Linked DNA regions of Homo sapiens. The protein of the gene in region 1 interacts with the protein of each later gene in a biochemical or structural test. Each region holds a gene or a part of one and is shown on either strand. Other genes may lie near its edges.

Region 1 (7,033 bases):
GCCGAGCAGATCTCCAGATACCTGCAGGCACAAATGGGTGGAGACAAGGACCTGACCATTAGGCTGCAGCTGCCCAACCCTGGCCCAAGAAACCCCACCCACCACCAAACCAGGAGAAACCAGGGGGATGTCCGTGAGAGAATCAGGAGCAACCCTCACTGCTGGGCTCCAGCCACAGTTGCTGGGGCTTCATGGGGCATAGGAACAAGCGAGTGTGACATATACACACGTGTTCATATATTTTGTGGGGTTTTTGTTGTTGTTTTTGAAACAGAGCCTCGCTCTGTCACCCAGGCTGCACTGCAATGGCCCAACCTCTGCCTCCCAGGTTCAAGTGATTCTCCTGCCTCAGCCTCCCAAGTAGCTGGGATTACAGGCACACGCCACCACACCCATATAATTTTTGTATTTTTAATAGAGATGGGGTTTCACCATGTTGGCCAGGATGGTCTCGATCTCCTGACCCCGTGATCCGCCTGCCTCAGCCTCCCAAAGTGCTGGGATTACAGGCATGAGCCACCATGCCTGGCCTTATTTTTTTATTTTTAGTAGAGATGGGGTTTCACCAAGTTGGCCAGGCTGGTCTCGAACTCCTGACCTCAAATGATCACCCCGCCTTCGCCCTCCAAAGTGCTGGGATTACAGGCATGAGCCACCGTGCCCAGCCTACACGTATGCAGATACACACAAATATACACACACACTGAAACATGCATGATGGTGTAATAGGGCCTAAATTATTGCTGTGTGGCTATTCCTAATCTTGCCCCTTTCTCCTGGTTTCTAAGGAACATCCTCTTCTGGGCCAGCTCCCAGGTTCTCCTTGTTGCACAGAACCAAACTAATTCACTAATAAGAGCAGGGGAAAAAAAAAAAAAAAACTAAGCTGGACATGGTGGCTCACGCCTGTAATCCCAGAACTTCGGGAGACTGAGCCAGGACGATGGCTTGAGCCCAGGAGTTCGAGACCAGCCTGGACAACAAAGTGAGACACTCATCTCTAAAAAAGAAAAAAAAATTTTTTTTTTAATTAGCCAGGCATGGTGACACGTGCCTATAGTCCCAGCTACTTAGAGGCTGAGGCAGGAGAACCACTTGAGCCCAGGAGTTTGAGGCTGCAGTAAGCTATAAGGGTGCCAGTGCACTCCAGCCTAGATGACAGCACAAGACCTCATCTTAAAAAAACAGAAAAACAGACAGGGTGTGATGGCTCACGCCTGTAATCCCAGCACTTTGGGAAGCCAAAGCGGGTGGATCACCTGAGGTAGGGAGTTCAAGACCAGCCTGATCAACATGGAGAAACCCCATCTCTACTAAAAATACAAAATTAGCTGGGTGTGGTGGCACATGCCTGTAATCCCAGCTACTAGGGAGGCTGAGGCAGGAGAATCGCTTGAACCCAGAAAGTGGAGGTTGTAGTGAGCTGAGATCGTGCCATTGCACTCCAGCCTGGGCAACAAAAGCGAAACTCCGTCTCAAAAACCAAAAAAAAAAAAAAAAAAAAAAAAAAACAGAAAAACAAAACAACAACAAAACTAAAGAGGCTTGAGGCCAGGCATGGTGGCTCACACCTGTAATCCCAGCACTTTGGGAAGCTGAGCCGGGCAGATCACTTGAGGCCAGGAGTTCAAAACCAACCTAGCCAACAGGGCAAAACCCCATCTCCTCTAAAAACACAAAAAATTAGCCAGACGTCATGGCGGGCACCTGTGGTCCCAGCTACTTGGGAGGCTGAGGCACCAGAATCACTTGAACCTGGGAAGCAGAGGTTGCAGTGAGCTGAGATCACACCACTGCACTCCAGCCTGGGTGACAGAGCGAGATCCCCCATCTCAAAAAGAAATAATAAATTATTGTTTTCTAAACCACTAAATTTTAGGGTTGGTTTGTGATACAGCAACAGATAGCCAAAATACTAGCAGAAAAGACTCTTTGGCTTTTGTCTTATTTCTGCCTGGAATATGAACACAATTCTTGGGATGCAGCCACCATCCTGCCTCCACGAAGAAGAAAACCGCCCATAATTAAAATGGTAGAGCAGGAAGCTAGAAGCCTAGTTCCTTGATGGCATCCTTGAGCATCTACAGCAGCCTGAATAGCTGACCCCTGGACTTCTTTTTAAACATGTGGGAAAATTAACCCCTTTTATTTAAGTCATTGCTTGTTGGAGTTTCTGTACTTGCAGCCCAGTGCAATCCTAACACTGAGTAAAAGTTTGAAGCAGTTTTCATTATATTTTGGTTGCCAGGCTGTATCCCTATGACTGGGATACTGCACTGACAGTGGGCCATATGGAACCCCAGTTATATTGAGGTTACCTATGTAGGTACTCAGGCATGTACATGTTAAAACACACATGCACACACATATGTGCATACACATACAAATAACATATAAACAAACACACATGTACAAATCTATACTCATACATGCAAATGCTCTCATATATACATACAAGCACTTGCATTTACATGTCATCTACACGTGCGCACACTTAGAAACATATACACACGTTTCAGGTAATGTCTGGGATCAGGCTGGGAATCTAAGGTTCTATGAGTCTCTAGAAGGACTAATACTACTTCACCTTCACACTCACAGAAGGCCCTTCCGGGCCGGGCATGGTGGCTCACCCCTGTAATCCCAGCACTTTGGGAGCCCAAGGTGGGTGGATCTTGAGGTCAGGAGTTTGAGATCAGCCTGGCCAATGTGGTGAAACCCTGTCTCTAGTAAAAATACAGCCGGGCGCGGTGGCTCATGCCTGTAATCCTAGCACTTTGGGAGGCCGAGGCAGGCAGAATGCCTGAGCTCAAGAGTTCAAGACCAGCCTGGGCAACATGGTGAACCCCCGTCTCTGCTAAAATACAAAAAAAAAAAAAATTAGTCAGGCATGGCGGCGTGCACCTGTAGTCCCAGCTACTCAGGAGGCTGAGGCAGGAGAATTGCCTGAACCTAGGAGGCGGAGGTTGCAGTGAGCTGAGATTGTACCACTGCACTCCATCCAGCCTGGCAACAGAGAAGACTCTGTCCCAAAAAAAAAAAAAATACAAAAATTAGTCTATTAAAAATACAGGCGATGGCTCATGCCTGTAATCCTAGCACTTCAGGAGGCCAAGGTGGGCGGATCACCTGAGGTCAGGAGTTCCAAACCAGCCTGACCAACATGGTGAAACCCCATCTCTAATAAAAATACAAAATTAGCTGGGCATGTTGGCAGGTGCCTGTAATCCCAGCTACTCAGAAGTCTGAGGCAGGAGAATCGCTTGAACCCGGGAGAAGGGGACCGCAGTGAGCCAAGATTACACCACTGCACTCCAGCCTGGGCAACAGAGCGATACTCCGTCTCAAAAACAAAAACAAAGGCTCTTTTTTAGAGCATCGGCAAGTGACCTGTGAATCACCAGTTTTTGCCTCATGGGGGCAGGCAAGAGGTGTGGCATCGAGTGAGACCAAGAGATTTGGATGCTGGACGTTAACCAGCCCTCCCAGCCAATGTTGGGCATTTGCTTGGCATTGAACCTAGGCTGTCACTAGGACCCACAGCCCAAGCTTGTAATGCATATAGCAGTTAAGCATCACCTCCAACAATGCATATCCCACTTGACCAAATATGCTCCATTTAGCCACCACCATCACTCAGGTATCTTGCACCTTCCAAAGCAGAAAGGACTACCAGGATTGAGGCAAGTGCCACCCTTTCTGGTTGTGTGATCTCAAGTAGGTTACTTCCCCTCTCTGTCCTCATCTATAAAATGGAGGTGAGCCGGGAACGATGGCTCATGCCTGTAATCCCAGCACTTTGGGAGGCCGAGGCAGGCAGATCACCTGAGGTCAGCAGTGCGAAACCAGCGTGGCCAACATGGTGGAACCCCATCTCTACAAAAAATACAAAAGTTAGGCAGGGCACAGTTGCTTACACCTATAATCCCAGCACTTTGGGAGGCTGAGGCGGGGGAATCACCTGAGGTCAGGAGTTCGTGACCAGCCTGACCAACATGGAGAATCCCGTCTCTACTAAAAATACAAATAATTAGCCAGGCATGGTGGCAGGCGCCCGTAATCCCAGCTACTTGGGAGGCTGAGGGAGGAGAATTGCTTGAACCTGGAAGGCAGAGGTTTCAGTGAGCCAAGATCATGCCATTGCACTCCAACCTGGGCAACAGAGTGAGACTCTGTCAAAAAAAAAAAAAAAAAAAAAAAAGTTAGCCAGGTGTGGTGGTGGGCGCCTGTAGTCCCAGCTACTTAGGAGGCTAAGGCAGGAGAATCACTTGAACCCAGGAGGCAGAAATTGCAGTGAGCCAAGATCTTTGCACCACTGCACTCCAGCCTGGGCGACAGAGCAAAACTCTGGCTCAAAAATAATAATAAAATAAAATAAAATGGAGGTGAAATAATAGGACTTTGCCCATTGGGCCTCTGTGAGAGCTAAATAATATTGCACAGGGAAAGCACTCAACACAGTGCTGGGTACACAGTAAACACTCAGTAAATGTTAGGTGGTTTCAGTATTATCAATGAACTGTTAAAGGCTGCTCAGATGTGAAGGATGTAACCTTCCATGGCCCTGATAAAAAGGTTACCAGACATCTCAGAGCTCCAGCAGAGTGGGAAGAGACGAGAGGATCAGTGAGTCCAACAACCTCATCTCACAATGGAGAATCTAAAGGTCAGTGAGGAAAAGGGCCTAGTTCAAAGAGGACCAGGACTGGAACGCAGGGTTCTTCCTCAGACCAAGTTCATCCCCAGATGTGAGCTGCCCAGAGGAAGAAGTGAGAAGCAAAGCACACCATCATCTCCATGGCTTCACTCAGGCTTCCAGTCAATCTATTTTTTAAGCACCTACTATGTCCTGGCATTGTGCTGGTCATTCGTACAACACAGAGGTGTCTTTCCATTGGTCCCACCACCTGACGCCAGGGCATCTGTCCATCTGAGTTGCTCCCAACCCCAGCCTTACCTGGGCTCCGGGTCATTGGGGGTGCACCTCTTCGAGACATATGCCATCTTCAAGGACATGTGTTTGGCCTCGCTGAAGTTCCGGGGTGTGGGGCCAGGGGAGGAAGGCTGCCGCTGAAGGGGTGAGGCAGGAGGTGAGTCCCAGCCGACCGAGGTCCCACCAGTAGAGTTCTTGAAATACGGTGAGACGTCCTTCATATACTTGACTGATTGGGAGAGACATCAGCAGTCACCACTGTGACATGGGCTCCCAGCACATATCACAATTGTCACTAATTTATTAAGAGTTTAATTTACGTGTCACTATTAGACCCTTAGTAAGCAAGAGTCCAGTAGTGATATTAACAAATTCTTCTAAGTTAAAGTCTCTGACAGGGCAGTGGAGCAGAAAATACTGTATCCCTTCTCTCTATCCCTATATAGAGATAGGGCCCGCCTATATCCCTTCTCTCATTTTCCCCATGGTTAATAGACATACAGCCACCTGGAAGAAAGACTCTATTTCCCAGCCTCCTTTGCAGTGAGGTGTGGCCATGTGACTTTTTTTTTTTTTTTTTTGAGACAGTTTCTCTCTGTCACCCAGACTAGAGTGCCATGGTGTGATCACAGCTCGCTACAGCCTCAATCTCCCAGATCAATCAATCCTCCCACCTCAGCTCCCCAAGTAGCTGGGTCTACAGGTACGCACTACCACACCCAGCTATTAATTTTTTGTAGAGATGGGGTCACGCCATGTTGCTGGTCTTGAACTCCTAGACAGTGTATACAAGAAGGTGGTTACAAGACTTTCCCAGGCTGGGCATGTTGGCTCATGCCTGTAATCCTAGCACTTTGGGAGGCCAAGGCGGGCAGATCATTTGAGGTCAAAAGTTTGAAACCAGCCTGACCAACATGGTGAAACCCCGTCTCTACTGAAAATACAAAAGCTAGCCGGGCGTGGTGGCTCGCACCTGTAATCCCAGCTACTGGGGAGGCTGAGGCAGGAGAATCACTTGAACCCGGGAGGAGGAGGTTGCAGTGAGCCAAGATTGTGCCACTGTACTCCAGCCTGGGTGACATAACAAGACTCTGTCTCAAAAAAAAAAAAAAAAAAAAAAAAAAAAAAGACTCCCAGGCTGGGCATGGTGGCTCATGCCTGTAATTCCAGCACTTTGGGAGGCCAAGGCAGTGTGGATCACTTGATGTCAGGAGTTCAAGACCACCCTGGCCAACAAGGTGAAACCCTGTCTCTACTAATAATACAAAGGTTAGCTGGGCAGGGTGGTGCATGCCTGTAATCCCAGCTACTCGAGAGGCTGAGGCATGAGAATCACTTGAACATGGGAAGCAAAGGTTGCAATGAGCCAAGATTGCGCACTCCAGCCTGGACGATGAAGTGCGACTGCCTCAAAAAAAAAAAAATGATGACTTTCCCAAGACCTTGTCTCTCTTCTCCCAACAAGGATATACCCTCTGTGGGTGCCTGATGCCTGCTAGCCCGTGGGCAGCCTCTCTTCCTCTGCTCTCAACCACACCTGCTCCCAGGGCCATCTGGCTTGCTAGCTATCTGACGTCTGCAGTCAAAGCCCAGCCAACGTGCCCTGTGAGTGGACAGCCCAGGAAGGAGTTAGGAAGTAATTCTTGGCCCACCTCCCTGGAAGAACCAGATAAGAAGCTATTTCTGTCGCAGGAGATGCCTCTGAGGCTCAGATAGGATTCAAAGCAAATGGAGGCAAATAAGAGGGAGTTACAAACCCTATTGGGGTTGGGATAGAAGCAATGTTGAAAGAAACCAGGGTCAGGTTTTTTTGGGAGAAGCAAGCCTGGGTCTGACTTTTGGGGACTAGGACTCAAATGACTTATCATCACTGTAGCAACGACTTACCCCAGGACTGACTATTGGATTATGTCTCAAAGGGCAGCAGAAGTGGGACATATCACAGCCTACTTGACAGCCAAAAACCATCTCCCCTCTTTTTCCTTTGCTAAGAGAACCCTGAGCCCTAGAGGCTCAGCTTCTCCCCAGCTTAGAGGGAGAATCTTGATTGGTCAAATCAAATCATGATCATTCCATCCTTTTTGCTTGTGATTGGTTTAG
Region 2 (4,834 bases), on another chromosome or scaffold:
CAAGACAATCATTTTATAAAGAACAGAAGTTAAATAAACATTGTAGAATAAGGCCTCTTATGCATTCTGAGTTTTCTAACCTATACCTCATGATTTCATAGTGCAAGGCTGATCGCTAGTTGTTATCTCACATTCTAGAATGCTTTGTCATGACTTAAATGCAGTTATATGTGTCATAAATTCCTTTAATAAAGATAATAATGATGGTGATGTTGAAACCAAATGTTTGACACAATTCTTCCTTATGTCCATTTTAGCAAATATAATGTTAAAATCTGAGGTTAATCCCCAAATTCTGTTCTTATATAACTGCACAAAAAAATAAACTTAATAAATCTAGCGTTTATGTTTCACATTTAATAGAAAAATTTTAAGCCATAATCACTGTAGCTGCTTGGCATCTTCTTCAAGAATTCTTTCAGTGCATGCATTAACTTTGGTTAAATTATTCTGGAGTTAAAAGGCAGAAGAATATATAAAATAGTATGATTTCAGAAGCATCATTCTAACAGACCAATTTCAAAAGATTCAGTTGCTAAATTTTACTTCATAATTCCTTTGTCAATCAGTTATTTAGATTTTAAAAGAGGAGAGAATCCTGTGATGTTATCTGCATGATCATTAGTCTCACACAATGAAAAGAAAACAATAAAATAAGACTAAAGAAATCATTCTTCCAATGATTGTCATTGAACTGTTACATTAGTAAACATTCACAGTTTGAAGTCTCTCTCAATCTCCAGCATATAAAGTAGTGCAAAGAAAAAAAAATCCAGTCCTGTTACCTGCAAACAAAACTTATTACATATTCTCCAATTTCACTTATTCTATAATGTTAGACATTTGCTGTTAAGTCTTCCCAAAATTAATAACAAAATATAATCAATTTCTAAAGGCCCTTGCAGCCTTTTTAAAAGTTAATTTCCAGTTAAAAATAAATTTTAATTAAATCCAAGATAAAATTGTGACCTATAGTCTATTAAATAATTTACTTTCTTTTTTCTCTACACAGTATTTCTTACAATTTTTAAAAAACAACTACAGAATCCAAAGACATACGATATGCTGTTAAAGCACTGATAAATGACTGCTCAGATTCATTAGTTCTTACATAGTAAATACTTCAAAATGCCAACTTTTCCCTTCACTGCACAATTACTAACATTGACAATTTACTTCACACACACACACATATACACACACACGCACACACTCTCTCTCTCCATCTTTACTGTTAACATCTTTTCCAGTTAATGTGCAAAATTCTTGCATTCTAATAAAAATATAAAGATAGATTTGCTCCTATTCCTCCCTCTTCTCCAAGATGTATCATTTATTTGATATGTAATACAAGTTTAGTAACAATTATGCCATGTATAACCATTAAATAGTGTACTACTGTATGCATTGGATCATTTGCATATTTCATTTTCATAACTGCACTCTCTATGCATAAATATATTTGGAGATGCTGAGGGGGGAGCAGTGGCAGGTGGAAAAAGATTCACACATCAGTCTCCACAGCCTTTGCATTAGAACAGTTGTTTTTATCTGTCTCACTGTCATCCCCCTTTCCCTGACACTTCTCCTCCTTTGCACACAGAGATTCCTTAACTCCTTCTTCCATCTCTAGATACTCTGACTTGTCCCCCAGGGAAGAAGAAGTAGAGCTCCGAAATTTCTTGAGCAAATTAGAGGGGAGGTATGGACAACTGACTGCATTCTGCGTTAGCTGTGTCTGTTCCTCATTTTCAGTCTCTCTGTGGTAGAAATAGTTAAAGTTAGAGACAATCACTGGCACTGGCAAAGCAATGGTTAAGACACCCGCAATGGCACACAGGGACCCGACAATCTTGCCCCCTACAGTGATGGGCTTCATGTCCCCATAGCCCACAGTTGTCATGGTCACCACAGCCCACCAAAATGCATCTGGGATGCTTTGGAAATGGGTAGTAGGTTCATCCGCCTCTGCAAAATACACAGCACTAGAAAAGAGGATGACCCCAATGAAGAGGAAGAAGATCAGAAGGCCCAGTTCCCGCATGCTGGCTCTGAGGGTGTGGCCCAGGATCTGCAGGCCTTTGGAGTGCCTGGAGAGTTTGAAGATCCGGAATACTCGGACCAGACGAATGATTCTGAGGATGGCAAAGGACATGGCCTGCTGCTGCTGACCATTGCCACCCCCCTGTTGCTGGGCCAGGTCAGTGCCCAGTGTGATGAAGTAAGGCAAAATGGAGACAATGTCAATGATGTTCATGATGTTTTTGAAGAAGAGTGCTTGGCTGGGACAAGCAAAGCAGCGAACCACAAACTCAAAGGAAAACCATACAATACAGACTGTTTCCACGATGAAGAAGGGGTCATTGAATATTGTGTGCCCTGAGTTCTCCAGATGGGGTGCTGAAGTATCATTCAACAACCCACCATGCCCGCCAGCACTCAGTGCCATGACGAGATCCCTGTCGTCCCTAAACTCAGGCAAGGTTTCCAGGCAAAAGATGACAATGGAGATTAAGATGACCAGGACGGACACAATGGCTATGCCCCTTGCAGGACTGGAGCTCTCTGGATATTCAAAGAGGAGCCAAATCTGCTTTTTAAATTCATTCTCGGGGAGGGCCCTGTCTTCCTCTTCTCTCACAAAGCCCTCGTCCTCCCGAAACTTCAACAGGGCCTCCTCCCCCAACTGATAGAACTTCACCTCCTCAGTGAAGATATCAAAGGGGACATTGACTGGCCTCTTCAGGCGGCCTCCTGATTGATAATAATACAAGATGGCATCAAAGCTGGGGCGGTTCCTGTCAAAAAAATACTCATTGCGCAAAGGGTCAAAGTACTGAGTCCTCTTTTCAGGGTCTCCCAACAAAGTCTCTGGAAACTGGGCCAGAGTTTTCATTTGGGTCTCAAAGCGTAGGCCTGACACATTTATCACCACACGTTCACAACAGTCACTGTAGCGGACTGAACTGTAGCCGCCACCGCCCTCATCCTGAGGCAGCAGATCCGTGTAGGAACACTCATCACCATGGTCATCTTCACTATAGTAAAACCTTCCCTCCTCTTCCTCCTCTTCCTCCTCCTCCTCATCTTCCTCCTCCTCACTCAGCTCCCTCAGGATCTTCTCCTCAGAGCCACTGGGCATCAGGTCAGAGCAATGAGGGAAGCTGCTCTGCCGGTAGTGGGCTTTCTTCTTCTCAGACCGCTGTCGCCTCCTCCTCCGACTACCCCGGCTGCTCTGAGGGTCATGGGAGGTACAGGCCCCGCGTGACTGGTGGTGGTGGTGGGAGCCCCCACCAGAACCCCCGCTACCTTCGACAGCAGCTGTGGCCGCTGCAACAGCAGCTGCTGCAGCTGCCCTGGAGTGAGCAAGCCTCTCCCGCTCCCGGGCCCGGGCCTGGGCAGCATAACCATAAGGCATGTGACTGTTGCACCCTGAGCTCTCCGCACTCACCATTGCAACCTCCATGGTGGTGGTTTTCGGAAATGGCTGGTTCCAGTTGTAGAAGAAGAAGAAAGAAAAATAGGGCAGCTTCTTTTCTCACCAAATTAAGGTAAGTTTGGAACCCTTAAGCAGATTGCTTGGAAGACTAAGGATATTTTCAGTCCAACTTTGCATTTTCTGTTTTTAAATCAGCACGCCCCATGCTCTCTCTTCTCAGGGATTCAACATTGCTCTCCAGAGCTTGGCTGGTCGAGATAAATAGCCTGGCACTCTCAAGACTAAGAAGTCCGAAAATGCTGGAGTCTCTCAGACACCTATGTTTTGGGGGTAGATGTTGAAATTTGGAAATATGTCTGGGATGTGGTTAGTGATGTTGCTGCAAGATTCAAAGGCAGCAAGTGTCTGACAGCCAGAAGTTGTGCCTAGAAAATGAAATATATTTTTCTGCCATGGAAATTGGCCAATGCTCAGTCCATTAAATGTAAATAAAATGCAAATAAGCCTTTACTGTTAGCACTTGCCTTCTAGTGATGGCTCGAACCATGTTAAGATGTGGTTTGAAGTATGTCCAGCCATTTCTACTCAAAGTCTATCAGGATGATTCTCCAGGCTCTCCTTTTAAGTTCATCAAAGGCTTCCTGTACCCAGGTACAATGCCAAACCACAGATAGAGGCAAAGACCCTGGGAGGTAGAGAAGGTGCTAGATGAGGTGTCAGCAGAAGCAAAACCAGCTCTGAGGTCTCCATAGAAATCAAGGAAATGCAGAGCATTCTTCAGCCAAAATCATGCAGAAGAAGCACTTCACCTGAAAAAGGATTGGAAAGAAGCATAGGAGAAAAATAAAAAGGAAACAAATCATAAAGAGCAAACTGAGCATTTCTCTTCACATACACATCCTTCTCTTTTCTTCAAGAAAGTCATATAACACACCAAGCACCAATATTTTCAAGAGTATGGGGCAGGCTATTCTCACTCACTAAACATCATTCTTTCCTTCTTCAGTTATTATTTCAGCTCAGTTTATTTTTATGGTAACTCAATTATTTTTCCTCTCTCCACTCATGGCCCACATGGCTCTTGCTTCTATCTTCCCCTTCACCAATGCTAGGTCTTAATTCTCACTGTCACTCTCTTCATTCCACAAAAAATAATGCTGTGACTTTACAGCTGCTTCCATCATTCATCTATTTCAAGGCAATTTTTAAAATTTCCACTCATAAAGTGTTTCTGAATTAAGTGCCCTTCTACTCCTCTCTATCTTGACTCAGCACTGGGGAAGTCAGAAAAAAAAATAATAATATTCTTATTCTTTGTGCAGACAGCACCACTTGAATGCACTTCAGTCACCTCATCTATAAAGTACAAATAATAACACAACCTCCCCCATCCCA
Region 3 (7,033 bases), on another chromosome or scaffold:
AATGTTTCGTTTTTTAAGATGGGAAAAATAACAAACGTTTGTTAAATGGGTGGGAATGATCCAATGAAAAAAGATTTAAATTGGTATGAGGGGCAAAAAAGGGAAGAATACATGGGGCAATATATCGAGTAGGAAAGAGGAGATGGAATCTAGGGCAAAATGAGGAGAGGTTGGTCTTAATTAGGAGCAGGAACAGTTTACTTATAAAAACGGGAACTTTCATAAGCAGAGACCATGGATACAGATACAAGTAGTTGGGTAGATAATGGAATAGAAGTTTGTCGATGTTCTATTTTATTGCTTGACTTATCTGCAAGAAAAACAGGACAATCAGCAGAGAATGAACATAGAAAAGGTGTTGGAGGTGGGAGGAGGGTAAAGGCGGGAAAGAGTTGTCTAGGAGAGCAGGAGTATGAATAAACTTGCAAAGTACAGTGTGACTGTCTGTACTTTACCTGGCATGATGTTTGTCCTTAGTCTTCTCGAGACTACAACCTGGTAGAGAGAAATACTGAGAATAAGCACAAGCACGTACCTGGTGAAATCATGAAAGTAGGTGCAGCTGACTGCCCCACATCCTGCAGAGATTCTAAATGGGAATCCTCACTTATTCCTTTTTGTGTTTGTGCAATTTCCATGTCTTTAATTGGAACTGGTGTTGCCTCTGTTTCTGAGAGTGGTGGAACATCTTTGGCTGGAGTCACATTGTTGGCCAGGGTCAGAACCCCATCCTTAGCCAGGGGTGCTTCTGTTTTGAGGGCTGGGACCTGATCCTCAGTCAGGGCCACCTCCATTTCTGGAGGCAGACATACGTTCTTGATGAGAACTACTTCTGTTTCTGGAGGTGGAGTCACATCCTTGCCCAGAGCCATTTCTGTTTCTGATAGTGGAGACATGTCCTTCAACAAGCCCACTTCTTTTACTGTGGACGGAGCCACATCCTTGGCCGGGGCTATTTCTGTTTCTGGGAGTTGAGCCATGTCCTTGACTGGGGCCACCTCTGCTTCTAAAGGTAGTGCTTTATCCTTGGTCAAGATCACGTTGGTTTCCGGGGGCAGTGTCATGTCCCTGGCCAGGGCTACCTCTGTTTCTGAGGACAAAGCCACCTTCTCAGCAGAGGATATTTCTGTGGATGATATAATGTCATTAGCCTGTGCCACCTCTATTTCTGAGAGTAATACCAAATCCTTGGCTGGGACTATCTTGTTTTCTTTGGGTGGTCCCATGTCCTTGGAAGGAGCCAAGTCCATTTTTATAGGAGATGCCCTCTCTGTTTCTTTCTTGTTTTCTTTGGGTGGTCCCATGTCCTTGGAAGGGGCTAAGTCCATTTTTATAGGAGATGCCCTCTCTGTTTCTTTCAACAGTGTCACATCCTTGGCTGGGGCTACCTCTGTTTCTGTGGGCAGTACCACATTCTTGGCTGAAGATACATCTGTTTCTGTGGGCCATCTGACATCCTTAACCAGGGCCACTTCTTTTTCTGTGGGTAGTTCCATGTCCTTGACTAGGGCCATATCTGATTCCATGGATGGCTGCATGTCCTTGGCCAGTGTCACATCTAATTTGGTGGGTGATTCCATATCTTTAGCCAATGCCACCTCGGTTTTTGTAGCTAGTGCCATGTCCTTGGCGAGGGCCATCTCTGTTTCTTTAGATGGTGCCATGTCAGTAGTCTTCAGTCCCATCATTATTTCCAATGCTTGTGCTGGTGGCCTCTCTTCTGATGCCATTTCTATCTCCTTGGCTAGCTCTAAGGGAACTAAATTGGAAATTTAGGACACATCATTGTCTACTCATACCTTTGCATTAAAAATGCTTACTTTCTTCAGGCATGAGAGTATTTGGCTTTTGTGACCATAAGACTGTACACATAACTAAGAATTAATGTTAGGCCGGGCACAGTGGCTCACGCCTGTAATCCCAGAACTTTGGGAGGCCGAGGCGGATGGATCATCTGAGGTCAGGAGTTCGAGACCAGCCTGACAAACATGGTGAAACCCTGTCTCTACTAAAAATACAGAAATTAGCCATGCAGTGGCAGGCGCCTGTAATCCCAGCTACTTGGGAGGCTGAAGCAGGAGAATTGCTAGAACCCAGGAGGCGGAGTTTGCAATGAACCGAGATCACGGCATTGCACTCCAGCCTGGGGGACAGGGCAAGAGTCCGTCTCAAAAAAAAAAAAAAAAAAAGAAGAAGAAGCTAATGTCAAGTAACATATTCTGCCTACTCTTTGACAGTCTCAACACTTGGAAGAATAAGATGTAAAATACTGGGAGGACAAGTAGTGGAGGAGAAATGGCAAAGAAGAGAGAAAACATAGGCTTCAAAAATAACACGGGCACAGAATTAGTATTAGAAAGATAATCTGTGGGACAGCAGGTCAGTCATGCTTCCTATCAAGAAAAACTCCAGAGTTCTAAATCTGTACTGAATTTTTGTTTTTGTTTTTTGAGACACGGTCTCACGCTGTTGCCCAAGCTGGAGTGCAGTAGCATGATCTCGGCTCCCGGGTTCAAGCAATTCTCCTGTCTCAGCCTCCCTAGTAGCTGGGATTATAGGTACACGCCACCACGCTGAGCTTATTTATTTATTTATTTAGCTCTTTCACCCAGGCTGGAGTGCAGTGGCGCAATCTCGGCTGACAGCAACCTCTGCCTTCCGGTTTCAAGTGATTCTCCTGCCTCAGCCTCCCTAGTAGCTGGGATTACAGGCACCTGCCACCACGCCCAGCTAATTTTTTGTATTTTTAGTAGAGACGGGGTTTCACCATGTTGGCCAGGCTGGTCTCGAACTCCTGACCTCAGGTGATCTGCCCGCCTTGGCCTCCCAAAGTGTTGGGATTACAGGCGTGAGCCACCGTGCCTAGACCAATTTTTGTATTTTTTGTAGAAATGGGGTTTCACCATGTTGGCTGGGCTGGTCTGGAACTCCTGACCTCAAGTGATCTGCCTGCCTCAGCTTCCCAAAGTGCTGGGATTATAAGTGTGAGCCACCACACCAGGCCGTAAATCTGTACTGAATTAAAAAAAAAAATTCTGATACCTAATACAATGAAAATGTGATGAAAAAAATATATATATGTTAAAAAATTTAAAAAAAGTATTTATGTGCCCGTTAACCCTAAGTGTTATAGTTCAACAATTTAATTCCTCCAGTGGTGATATCACTAATATAAGCAAAACATTTGTGATTGTTCTGAAATTTTTATACCTGCTGTAAGCTGCTAAAAAATACACCTGATGATTTATATTGATTACCAATACTGCAACCATTAACTGATAAAGGGAGTCTCTAATAGTTTACCTGCCGTTGGCTGAGGAGGTTCTGCAACAGCCTCTGGGGAAACAAAGGACTCTGAGTGTGGAGAGTTTAAGGCTTCCACAGACCACCCCTGAGGTACAACAGCTGTGTTGCAGGGAGACATACCTAATATTGAAACACAAACAAATACATTTTGAAACTTAGTAAACATTGGAAACAAAAGGTATTTGATATATTTTTGTTTTGTTTTGTTTTGTTTGTTTTTTTTTTGAGACAGAGTTTCGCTCTGTTGCCCACGCAGACAGAGTGAAGTGGCGTGATCTCGGCTCACTGCAAGCTCCGCTTCCCGGGTTCACGCCATTCTCCTGCCTCAGTCTCCCGAGTAGCTGGGACTACAGGCGCCTGCCACAGCTCCCGGCTAATTTTTTGTATTTTTAGTAGAGGCGGGGTTTCACCATGTTAGCCCGGATAGTCTCGATCTCCTGACCTCTTGATCCAACCGCCTCGGCCTCCCAAAGTGCTGGGATTACAGGCGTGAACCACCGCGCCCGGCCTAAGAGGTATTTGATATTTAAAATCAGCTGCATATATTGCCAGGAAGACACAGACTAATAAAAAACAATGCAAAAAAAGTTTTTTTTCTTTTTTTGAGACAGAGTCTCGCACTGTCGCCTGGGCTGGAGTGCAATGGCACGATCTCGGCTCGCTGCAATCTCTGCCTCCCAGGTTCACGCCATTCTCCTGCCTCAGCCTCTCAAGTAGCTGGGACTACAAGCACACACCACCACACCTGGCTAATTTTTTTGTATTTTTAATAGAGATGGGGTGTCACTATGTTGGCCAGATTGGTCTCGAACTCCTGACCTCATGATCCACCCGCCTTGGCCTCCCAACGTGCTGGGATTACAGGTGTGAGACACCGCGCCCGGCCGACAACGCAAACAAGTTTTAAAGGAAACACTGCTGACATTCTTCAGGTTTTAGCTAGTTGTTAGTAGGTGGTATAGTATATCCCAGTAGTGCCATTAATCAACATTCACTGGCTACTTTCTATATAATATATAAAGGGTAATATAAAGATTCAAAATATTAATGATTGAACTCTAGTTCCAACACCACAACCAACATAATATACTATAGTAAAAAACTGCGAGTCTTAATTTCTTCATCTGCAAAATGAGATTAACACCTCCCTTTCCAACATTAGAAGACAATTTTATTAAAATACTTTGTAGCAGTTTTGTTGTTGTTGTTGTTGTTGTTGTTTGCCCAGCTAATTTTCTTATTTTTATTATATTTATTTATTAATTTTTGAGATGGATTCTTGCTCGTTGCCCAGGCTGGAGTGCAATGGCACAATCTCAGCTCACTGCAACCTCCACCTCCCAGGTTCAAGTGATTCTTCTGACTCAGCCTCCTGAGTAGCTGGGATTATAGGTGTCTGCCACCACTCCCAGCTAATTTTTGTATTTTTAGTCGAGACAGTGTTTCACCATGTTGGCCAGGCTGGTCTCGAACTCCTGACCTCAGGTGATCTGCCCACCTCCGTCTCCCAAAGTGCTGGGATTACAGGCATGAGCCACCACACTCGGCCTAATTTTTCTATTTTTAGTAGAGATGGGGTTTCACCATGTTGGCCAGGCTGGTCTCAAACTCCTGACCTCAGGTGATCTGCCCGCCTCTGCCTCCCAAAGTGCTGGGATTACAGGCATGAGCCATTAGGCCCAGCCTAATTTTTGTATTTTTAGTAGAGACGGGATTTCACCATTTTGGCCAGGCTGGTCTTGAACTCCTGGCCTCAAGTGATCCATCCGCCTTGGCCTCCCAAAGTGCTGGGATTACGGGCGTGTGCCACTGCACCCAGATGGTTTTTTTTTTTTTTTTTTTTTTTTAAGACAGGGTCTCAACTCTGTTGTCCAGGCTGGAGTACAGTGGCATGATCATGGCTCAATGCAGCCTCGACCTTCTGGGCTCAAGCAATCCTTCCACCTCAGCCTCTTGAGTAGCTGAGACTACAGGCATGTGCCACCACGCCTGGATGAATTTTAAAATTTTTTGTAGGACAGGATCTCCCTATGTTGCCCAGATTGGTTTCAAATTGCTGGGCTCAAGCAATCCTGTCACCTCAGCTTCCCAAAGTGCTAGGGTTACAGGCATGAGCCACTGTGTCTGCCTGTAAATGAAGAAGTAGAAAAATGTGGCTGGGTGCAAAGGCTCACGCCTGTAATCTCAGCACTTTGGGAGGCTGAAGCGGGTGGATCACTTGAGCCCAGGAGTTCAAGACCAGCCTGGGCAACGTGACAAAACCCCATCTCTACAAAAAATTAGCCAGGCATAGTGGTACACACCTGTAATCCCAGCTGCTCAGGAGATTGAGGTGGGAGGATCACCTGACCAGGAGGCCAAGGCTGCAGTGGGCCGTGATCGCATCACTGCACTCCAACCTGGGTGACAGAGTGAGACCCTGTCTCAAAAAAAAGGGGAGATGACAGCCCAACTGTGAATCTGTGAATTGTCTCCTTTGATTAATCCAAAGAGAGCCTTGTCACACCCACAGCCCCTAAATCTGACTTTTCTTAGTGGTTAGCTTCAAAGGTGATGTGTGAAAGGCCATGTTGATTGTTTGGCATTAAACAACTAAAGGACACCAGAATATGCCACCCCAAAATACGCTACTTTGGCATAAGGACTTTTTTAAGCTGAAGGCTATTATTAGCCTGGAGATGGCACCATAGGAATCTACACAGCAACCTTTACTAACTAGCTTTTACCTACCATTTACCTGTCTCCCACAATTTGCGGCCCCTAGAGACTCAAAAGTCTTTTCCTTCATCTTCTCACCTCTCAAAAAAAAAATTTGTCATTCTTTATTGAAGAAGCTATATAAGGTGGAATTCTAAAGCCACCTCTTGCGGAGTTACTCATTCCCTAGGTACCTCTCATGTACATATTAAATTCACATTTTAAACTTTGGTCTCTTTTTTCTTGTTAATCTTTTGTCACAGAGCCCTAGTCAGTGAACCAAAGATGAGTAAAGAAAAAATTTTTTTCCTTCCCTACAGAATAAATCCATTTGAAGAAGCCATACCGTAACTGTCTTTCAAGGGATCATTTTGTCCTGCAAATATTGAAGTATCAGCTGTCGCACTGGAGGGAAAGACCAAATCTGCCAGGTCATCATCATGGTACATCTTAAAGGGATCTGGAATATAGAAGAAATCCAAAACTCATTCCTGGTGAATGCAACTAGAAAGATTAATATTTCTTTCTTTCTTTCTTTTTTTTTTTTGAGGTGGAGTCTTGCTCTGTTGCCAAGGCTGGAGTGCAGTGGTGCCATCTTGGTTCACTGCAACCTCTACCTCCCAGGTTCAAGCAATTCTCCTGCCTCAGCCTCTTAAGTAGCTGGGATTACAGATGCCCGCCACCATGCCTGGCTAATTTTTGTATTTTTTTGTAGAGACAAGGTTTCTCCACGTTGGCCAGGCTAGTCTCAAACTCCTGATCTCAAGTGATCTGCCCACCTCGGCCTCCCAAAGTATTAGGATTACAGGCGTGAGCCACCATGCCTGGCCAATATTTCTTATTATCCTATGATGAATATAGATGAGTTGTCAATAGTAAGTAAACCGAAATCATATGTGACTGCACATGGTAGAGAATCAATATTCACTAATTCATTTGTTATGAGTTAATAATAAATAATCCCTTCTCTAAGATTTGGTTATGTACATCAGATAGCCAACAAATGCATAAAACAAAAAGGGCAACTAAT
Region 4 (7,033 bases), on another chromosome or scaffold:
CCCCCTTCAGCACTGCCACAAATGTCCAGCCCTCCGACAGCTCGGCGAGGTAGGTTAGGAGCAGCCAGCCCAGAGCCGGCAGGTGAGACTGAGGTGGCCTGGGAGGCATGCGCCCGGTGGAGGGGCTCCATGGGAGAGCTGGAATGGGGCAGCCAAGCCCCTGCCTGCTCAGGCTTCGCCAGTTGACCCTGTTACCTCAGGGTGACAGTTCTCTATGTTAAAAGATTTGCATATGCTAAATAGGATTGTCAGCAGCTGAAGAGGTCCTGGGGGTGATTGGACTAGTAAAATATTTTTCCCTGAAAAAGCCTTTTCACAAGACCTATGGGACCACCTGGATCTTGCCCCAAAGAGGTCCTCTGTGTGGGTGCCATCAGGATCCCGGGCTGAGCCAGAGAGGCTGGGCCTGACCACAGTGCCCCCTCTCTCAAAGGTGCCATGGTTCATTCCCCTCTAAGGGCACGAGAACTGGGCCTGACCATCCCTTTCCCTGCACAGGGCGCAGGGCCAAGCTCCGCTCCCCACTCCCATGTCTCTGTGTCTGGAGAGGAGCTGGAGACCACACAGAAAACTCCTCCGCGTATGGTCCAGAGAGCCCTGGGAGATCGCCAGTTTCCTCTCTTCAGGCAGGCTGAGGGGCCGCCATGGCTCAGGGCTGGTGAACTTCTTAGCCCCAAACCCCCATGGCTCAGCCCTCTCTTCCGATGGCTGGCTGGGCAGGGCCTGCCAGGTTCCAGGAGCAAGGACAAGCTGCATGCCAGGCCGTGAATGGGGCTTGCACCCTTGTGTCCTTTGGTTTTGTTAATACTCTTACAGGAGGGGAAGAAAAGGCAACTATCAGTGCCTAGGGCCAGCCCTGGGACCCAGGCCACTCTCCTCTGGAAGCCTTTTATTTTTGTAGGACTGACAATATGACCTGCGTGAAAACACAGGGGGAAAATGGGACCTTGGAGACAATAGGGGGCCAGAGTGAGCCCCGTGGACAAGAACCCCATCCTTGGGGGGCCGGCAGGGAAAGGCCTGTCTCCCTTAGGCTGGGAGCCTGGGTCCCACGGCCTGTGTCTGGCCTCCGTGTGTGAGGACTGTGTGTGTGTGCTTGTGTGAGTGGGGGTTCAGCCCTCCCAGCATCTCAGGTCAAGTGGGAGGGGGACCCCATTCGACCCCTGGGCAGTGAAGACCTGTGGGAGCCACACTGGATTCCACTTCTGCTTTGAGAACAGACTTCCGGCTGCTCCATAGACACTCTTGTTCAGGGTTAAGAAGAGACAGCGTGAATTGCTGCCCATGTCCATGGAAAAATCCTTAGTTCTTTGCTCAAGTAAAAAAATATCAAATATAATAAATTTATGAAAGCCCATTCACAACATATACAGTCTCAGTTTTATATTTCGCCTCAGCAGCTGGGATGAAGTTGCTTTCCAGAGCCGCAGGGCATTGCCTGACCAGACCAGGTCACAGGTCTATCTGAGGCCTCCAAGCACAGGCCAACTGCTCCGGCTGTCCACGCGGCGCCACAGAACTCTGCCTGGTTGATCCGCGGGGCTGAGGCCCATTTCTTACTCCCAAAGCCAGGAAGGCCCCAGGCTGGTTTGTGACTGACTGCATTTAGGTTTGCCATGGTGAAAAAGGCTGCTTTTCAGTGTGTCCTGGCCAGCCAGGCCGAGGCTCACACGATGGACTCACGGTCCCTGTCCGGAGAAGGGGGGAAGTCGGCGAGATCTTCACTGTGGCTGTAGTCAGACCCCCGCACCTGGAGGTTATCGCTGGTGGCTCTAGTGACACTGTCATAGGAGGGTGGGAAGGAAGTGGAGGAGATGGAGGAGCTGGAGGGTGGGCCAAGGGGTCGGGAGAAGTTCTCACTCATCACGTAGGCGATGAGGCCCTCTCGCTCAGGGGCATCCTCTTCGGAGAGGCCGCTGCCCGCCTGCTGACGGAAGAGGAAGGAGGCATGCTTCAAAGAGCGTTGCAGCAGGTGCCTGCGGAAGGCTCTCTGGATAACCATGGCCGACACCTCTTCGTGCTTGCGCCGGAGTGTGGTGGTGATGGGCTCGTAGGAGATCTTGGATGGGTTGGCTGCCATGAACTTCTCCTCCATCTGGATCTTCAGGGCGTCCATCTCCCCAGACTCCCCCAGGACCCTTTTGGTGAAGGCAAAGAGAATGTCCATGCAATGGATGCGGTCCCCACTCACCATGGGCAGGTCCATGTTGATGAGGCTTATCTGGTTGGGCTTGGCGATACGGAGTGGCTCAGACAGGGCATCGGCAAAGTCAGACAGGACCGAATACTCAATAAACTGAGTGGCCTCTGGGTCAAATTTCTCCCAGATCTCATAGAACATATCGAAGTCGTCCTCACTCAGGGGCTCGGTGCTCTCCTCCGTGGCCACGCTGAAGTTCTCCAGGATGATGGCAATGTACATGTTGACCACGATGAGGAAGGAGATGATGATGTAGGTGGTGAAGAAGAGGATGCCCACGGCTGGGCTCCCGCAGTCCCCCCGAGAGCCATTGCTGTTGGGCAGAGTGGGGTCGCAGTAGGGCGGCCCAGTGTTGAGGATGGGGCTGAGGAGGCCATCCCAGCCGGCCGACGTGGTGATCTGGAAGAGGCACAGCATGCTGTTGGCGAAGGTCTGGAAGTTGAACATGTCGTCGATGCCAGCCTCCCACTTGACATAAGCGAAGTTGGCCATGCCAAAGATGGAGTAGATGAACATGACGAGGAAGAGCAGCAGCCCGATGTTGAAGAGGGCAGGCAGGGACATCATGAGGGCAAAGAGCAGCGTGCGGATCCCCTTGGCCCCTCGGATCAGTCTGAGGATGCGGCCTATTCGGGCCAGGCGGATGACTCGGAAGAGCGTCGGGGAGAAGAAGTACTTCTGGATGATGTCCGAGAGCACAGTGCCTGTGGGAAACAACAGAGACTGTGGCTACTGGTGGCACCTCTGTCTTCCAGCCAGCATCACTGTGCAGGGGTTGGCGGTGGGGGGGGGGTCTCTATATGGCAAGGAGCCAAGGAGAGGCGGCCCTTCCAGGATTGCGTCCACTGGGCATGCTAGGACTCTGCCTGCTCCTGTCTGTTTGAGTCTCCATGTCTGCATCTGTGACCCAGAAAAATGGGTCCTTTGCAGGGTTCCTTCTCAGCCCCCTCATTCCTTAATCTTCAGTGTGTACCTACACAATAGAGCTGTCCTAGGCCCATCTTCTACATCTTGGGTTCTCAGGCCAGAGGGGATCTGCTTAGTATCTTGCCCACCCAGCTTGGGCCAGAACTCAGGTCTTTTAGCTCCTTGCTATTCAAAGTGTGGTTTGAGGACCAGCAGCCTTGGGATCTCCTAGGTGCTTATCAGAAATGCAGAATCTCAGCTCCACCCCAGCCCATTGCATCTTAAGAAGCCCAGATGATTTATGTGCCCATCGAAGGGCATGAAACACTGGCCCAGAAATCAGTGCTCCCTGATGCCACGCCATGGCCAGTGTCTTCTCTCAGCTTCTCTGTGATGGTTCTTATCGCTCTCCTAACTCTGCCTCCTTTGAGGGCGTCACTGCCCCTGGGTCTCCTGTGACTACCTGGGTTTGGAGTTTTAAGGGGCATGGATATAAATCATGGAATAAAGAGTGAAATAAACTTGTCTTATATGGCCCAAGTGCCCTTTCCAGACTCCTTATATAATAATGTCACTGACTGACATGGGTCCAGTGTTTACGATCACTGGGGCAATGGGCCGAGCACTTTATAGCCATCATTTCATTTAGTCCTTCCCATTGTCCTAGGAAGTGAGCAGATGCCATCATCCTTATCTTCCAGAAGAGGAAACAGAGGTGAGGTAACTTACCCAAGTTGCCACCTAGTGAGTGAGAAGCTGGGATTTGACTCAGACGTTCGGGCTCCAAGTTGATCTCTTAACCACTCCTCCTCTCTGGTACCGCCCAAACAGCGGGCCAGGAGAGATCCCAAAGTACATGCTGAACCTTCCAAAGCCTCTGAGACTGTCCCTCAATGGTTCCATTCCTGCTGCTGACATCCTGCATTCTCTAAAACTCCTCTCCAGTCCCATAAGGCACGCTCTCACCCTCATCCTGCTTGAGACCCCCCAGAGATTCCTGACCCTACTTTGTGCTTCCATCTTCCCGTCACTATAGCCACAGCAGTGCCTGCCTTAGCCCCTGCATTATCCTTTACATTTACCAGAGGCAGAGGTTGTATATGGCAGAAAGATGAAAGTCACAGTCACCGCAAGGCAGAGCCCCTTGGGGGTAGAGTTAAAGAGTTTGGGCTCCGAGCACAAGTGACAAAAGAAAAAATATAAGTAAACTGGACTTCATTAACATGTAAAACTTTTGTGCTTTAATGGACACCACTAGGAAATGAAAAAACTCACAGACTAGGAGAAAATATTTTTAAATCATATATCTGATAAGAGACTATGATCCAGAATATGTAAAGAACTCTTACAACTCAACAAGAAAAAGAGAAATAACCCAATTAAAAATGAGCTAAGGATCTGAATAGAGATTTCTCCAAGGAAGATATATAAATGACCAACATGCACATGGAAAGATGTCCTGCATCGTTAGTCATCAGTCATTTGCTTTTGCAAACCAAAACCTCAGTGAGATATCACTTCATACTCACTAGGAGGGCTCCTATAAAAAGAATGCAGGCAATAACAAGTGTTGGTGAGGGCAAAATAATTGGAATCCTCATACATTGACAGCGAGAATGTAAAAAGGTGCAGCCATATTGAAAAACAGTTTGGTGGTCCCTCAAAACTTTAGATAAGTGGTTTTCAGGGGTGAGGGAGAGGGGAAATGAATGGGGATTGACTATTAAATGGGTAGAGTTTCCTTTGGGGAAAGGAATATATTCTAAAATTAGATAGTGGTGATGGTTGCAAAGCTCTGTGCATATATTAAAAAACACTGAATTGTATACTTTAAAGTGACTTTAAAGTTAACCGTGAATTTTATGGTATGTGAATTATGTCTCAGTAAAGCTGTTATATAAAAAAAAGATCTGGGCTCCGAGGTCAAACAGACATGGGTCAGGATTGGGTCTCTGCTTCTCCCTAGCTGCACAATCTCCCTCCTTTGGTGCTGAATTGACTGGGTGAATTGCATGAGGCAGGTGATGTCTGAAGGAGTCTGGCATACACCTTGGCGGTTAGCTCCAGAATTTTCCATCTTCAGGGATAATTTCTACTCTGGAGGGCCACCTATCCCCCATCCCTGGGGACCCATCTCATCCTGAGCTTCCTTCTCCTTCAACCTAAGTGCAGGCAGAATTAGCCTCCACAGCACCCACTCCCATTCCCAGACTCATCCTTGAAGCTCTCTAAGCAGTTAGAGAACTGTGTTCCCAGTTCCTCTGGAGGGTGGGGCCAGGAGCAAGTGCTGGGTCCTCTGCCAGATTGGTCTCCTTGGCCCAAGTGGGGCCTTCCAGATAAGTTCTCTCTGGAGAGGTGTGTGTGCGTGTATGTGTGAGGGGAGAAGGGGGGTGAGAAATGCACTGAAAAAAATTATGAAAGAAGCTAGGGTTGTACATGGCATTCAGCAGAGACCCAGGGGCTGGAGGAGAGGCCTGGCTGGGGAGGGCTTCTCCGTCCAGCTGACTTGTATACCCACCCACGATGGAGAGGATGACAACCACGAAGTCGAAGATATTCCAGCTGTTGGTGAAGTAGTAGTGGCGCAGGGCAGCCAGCTTGACAATACACTCGCCTGTGAAGATGGCCACAAAGAGCAGGTTGATCTTGGCCAAGATGTTGATTTTCTCAGGACTTTGGTCATCTGTCTCCACCATCATGGTCACCATATTCAAGCAGATCAGAAACATGATGGTGACGTCAAAGGCCTGCTTGGTCACAATGTCGAATATGAAGCCCTGGTACTTGTTCTGAAAGGAGAGGCAAATGGAAAGTGCTCAGCAGGGCCCTTGGGGAGGCTGGCAAATGCCTGTTGCTGCCTCTCATCCCAGACCACCCACCCTCCCACTCTACCCTCTAGTGAGCCCAAAGCCCCTGCAACACTGCCACAGAGAGTGCAGAGGAAAAAGTCCTGGAGGCTAAAGCCACTGGCTGTCCTGCTGAAATGCTTCCTGGGCTTCAAGGCCCATCCCCAGAGCTCCATCTTCCATGAGGCCTTCCATGATGGATCTTCAGGGAGAGATTGTTCCTGCCCTGAGCATCCTTAGCACACTGTTCATTGTGCTTCCCTTTTAGTTCCCACAGTCTGAAGGCTCAAGGGCAAATTTAAACTTCAACCTTAGTAATTATGTCAGTGCTTAGATTAATATATTTTCTCCACTTTTTTATGGAATTTATTTTATTTATTCTACTAACCATATTTGTATGTGTCTTTAATTGTAAATCAGCCCAGATTATTTGGGGAAAGAAATAAGATTTTATATATATATATATATATATATATATATATATATATATATATATATATTTTTTTTTTTTTTTTTTTTCTTCTGTTCTCCCACTTGGAAAAGATTATAAATAACACACACACACACACACACACACACACACACACAATTTTTTGGATAATGGCTTGATTGGGCCAAGGGAGTCAGTCTTGGAGAGGACCCCGCTCTCCAGAGCTCTTGGCTCTCCCCACCAGGTGACTCAGGAATCCGGCTCCCTGACTGTTCTGGGGTTCCAAGGATGAGGCTGTGAGTGGGGTGGGGTGGGGCTGTGAAGGCTGCACTGCTTTTCCTGGGGAAAGCCTGCATCCTTGAGGGGAAGGAGGAGATTTGCTCAGGTACAGAGGGTTCCTGTGGGTGGGGAGTGTCCTGGGATGCTACATCCTTATCATACCTTCCTCCCTATCTCTACGAGGCTGGGACCTCTCTTCATGATCAGACATCTGATAGTGCCCCTCAGGCTGGGCTGAAAGACTGTGAAGCGGCTCTGATGGCTGGCCATGTGGCACGAAAGCTTCCCAGGGACCCCAGAAGATCCTCCCCACTCCCACAAAACCAGGAGCCTGGCTCACCAGGGGCCGTGGGATGGGCTTCTGGGGCTTCT

What was found.
Region 2: the proteins of SNTA1 (region 1) and KCNA4 interact in a test that uses a peptide from one of them, tested with the Homo sapiens proteins (2 studies listed by BioGRID and IntAct).
Region 3: the proteins of SNTA1 (region 1) and MAP4 interact in a test that uses a peptide from one of them, tested with the Homo sapiens proteins (2 studies listed by BioGRID and IntAct).
Region 4: the proteins of SNTA1 (region 1) and SCN5A interact in a test that uses a peptide from one of them, tested with the Homo sapiens proteins (2 studies listed by BioGRID and IntAct).

Annotation. Positions count from the first base shown.
Region 1 is NC_000020.11:33,412,762-33,419,794, forward strand, and holds part of SNTA1 (alpha-1-syntrophin), read right to left. Parts: intron 5,163-7,033; coding exon 4,958-5,162; intron 1,874-4,957; exon of another isoform or gene 22-1,873; coding exon 1-21. UniProt on the Homo sapiens protein: Adapter protein that binds to and probably organizes the subcellular localization of a variety of membrane proteins. May link various receptors to the actin cytoskeleton and the extracellular matrix via the dystrophin glycoprotein complex.
Region 2 is NC_000011.10:30,009,213-30,014,046, forward strand, and holds the end of KCNA4 (potassium voltage-gated channel subfamily A member 4), read right to left. Parts: intron 4,249-4,834; 5' UTR 3,467-4,248; coding exon 1,505-3,466; 3' UTR 518-1,504; downstream 1-517. UniProt on the Homo sapiens protein: Voltage-gated potassium channel that mediates transmembrane potassium transport in excitable membranes. Forms tetrameric potassium-selective channels through which potassium ions pass in accordance with their electrochemical gradient.
Region 3 is NC_000003.12:47,915,416-47,922,448, forward strand, and holds part of MAP4 (microtubule-associated protein 4), read right to left. Parts: intron 6,464-7,033; coding exon 6,350-6,463; intron 3,427-6,349; coding exon 3,304-3,426; intron 1,760-3,303; coding exon 536-1,759; intron 1-535. UniProt on the Homo sapiens protein: Non-neuronal microtubule-associated protein. Promotes microtubule assembly.
Region 4 is NC_000003.12:38,548,655-38,555,687, forward strand, and holds part of SCN5A (sodium channel protein type 5 subunit alpha), read right to left. Parts: coding exon 7,002-7,033; intron 5,896-7,001; coding exon 5,625-5,895; intron 2,905-5,624; coding exon 1,667-2,904; 3' UTR 1-1,666. UniProt on the Homo sapiens protein: Pore-forming subunit of Nav1.5, a voltage-gated sodium (Nav) channel that directly mediates the depolarizing phase of action potentials in excitable membranes.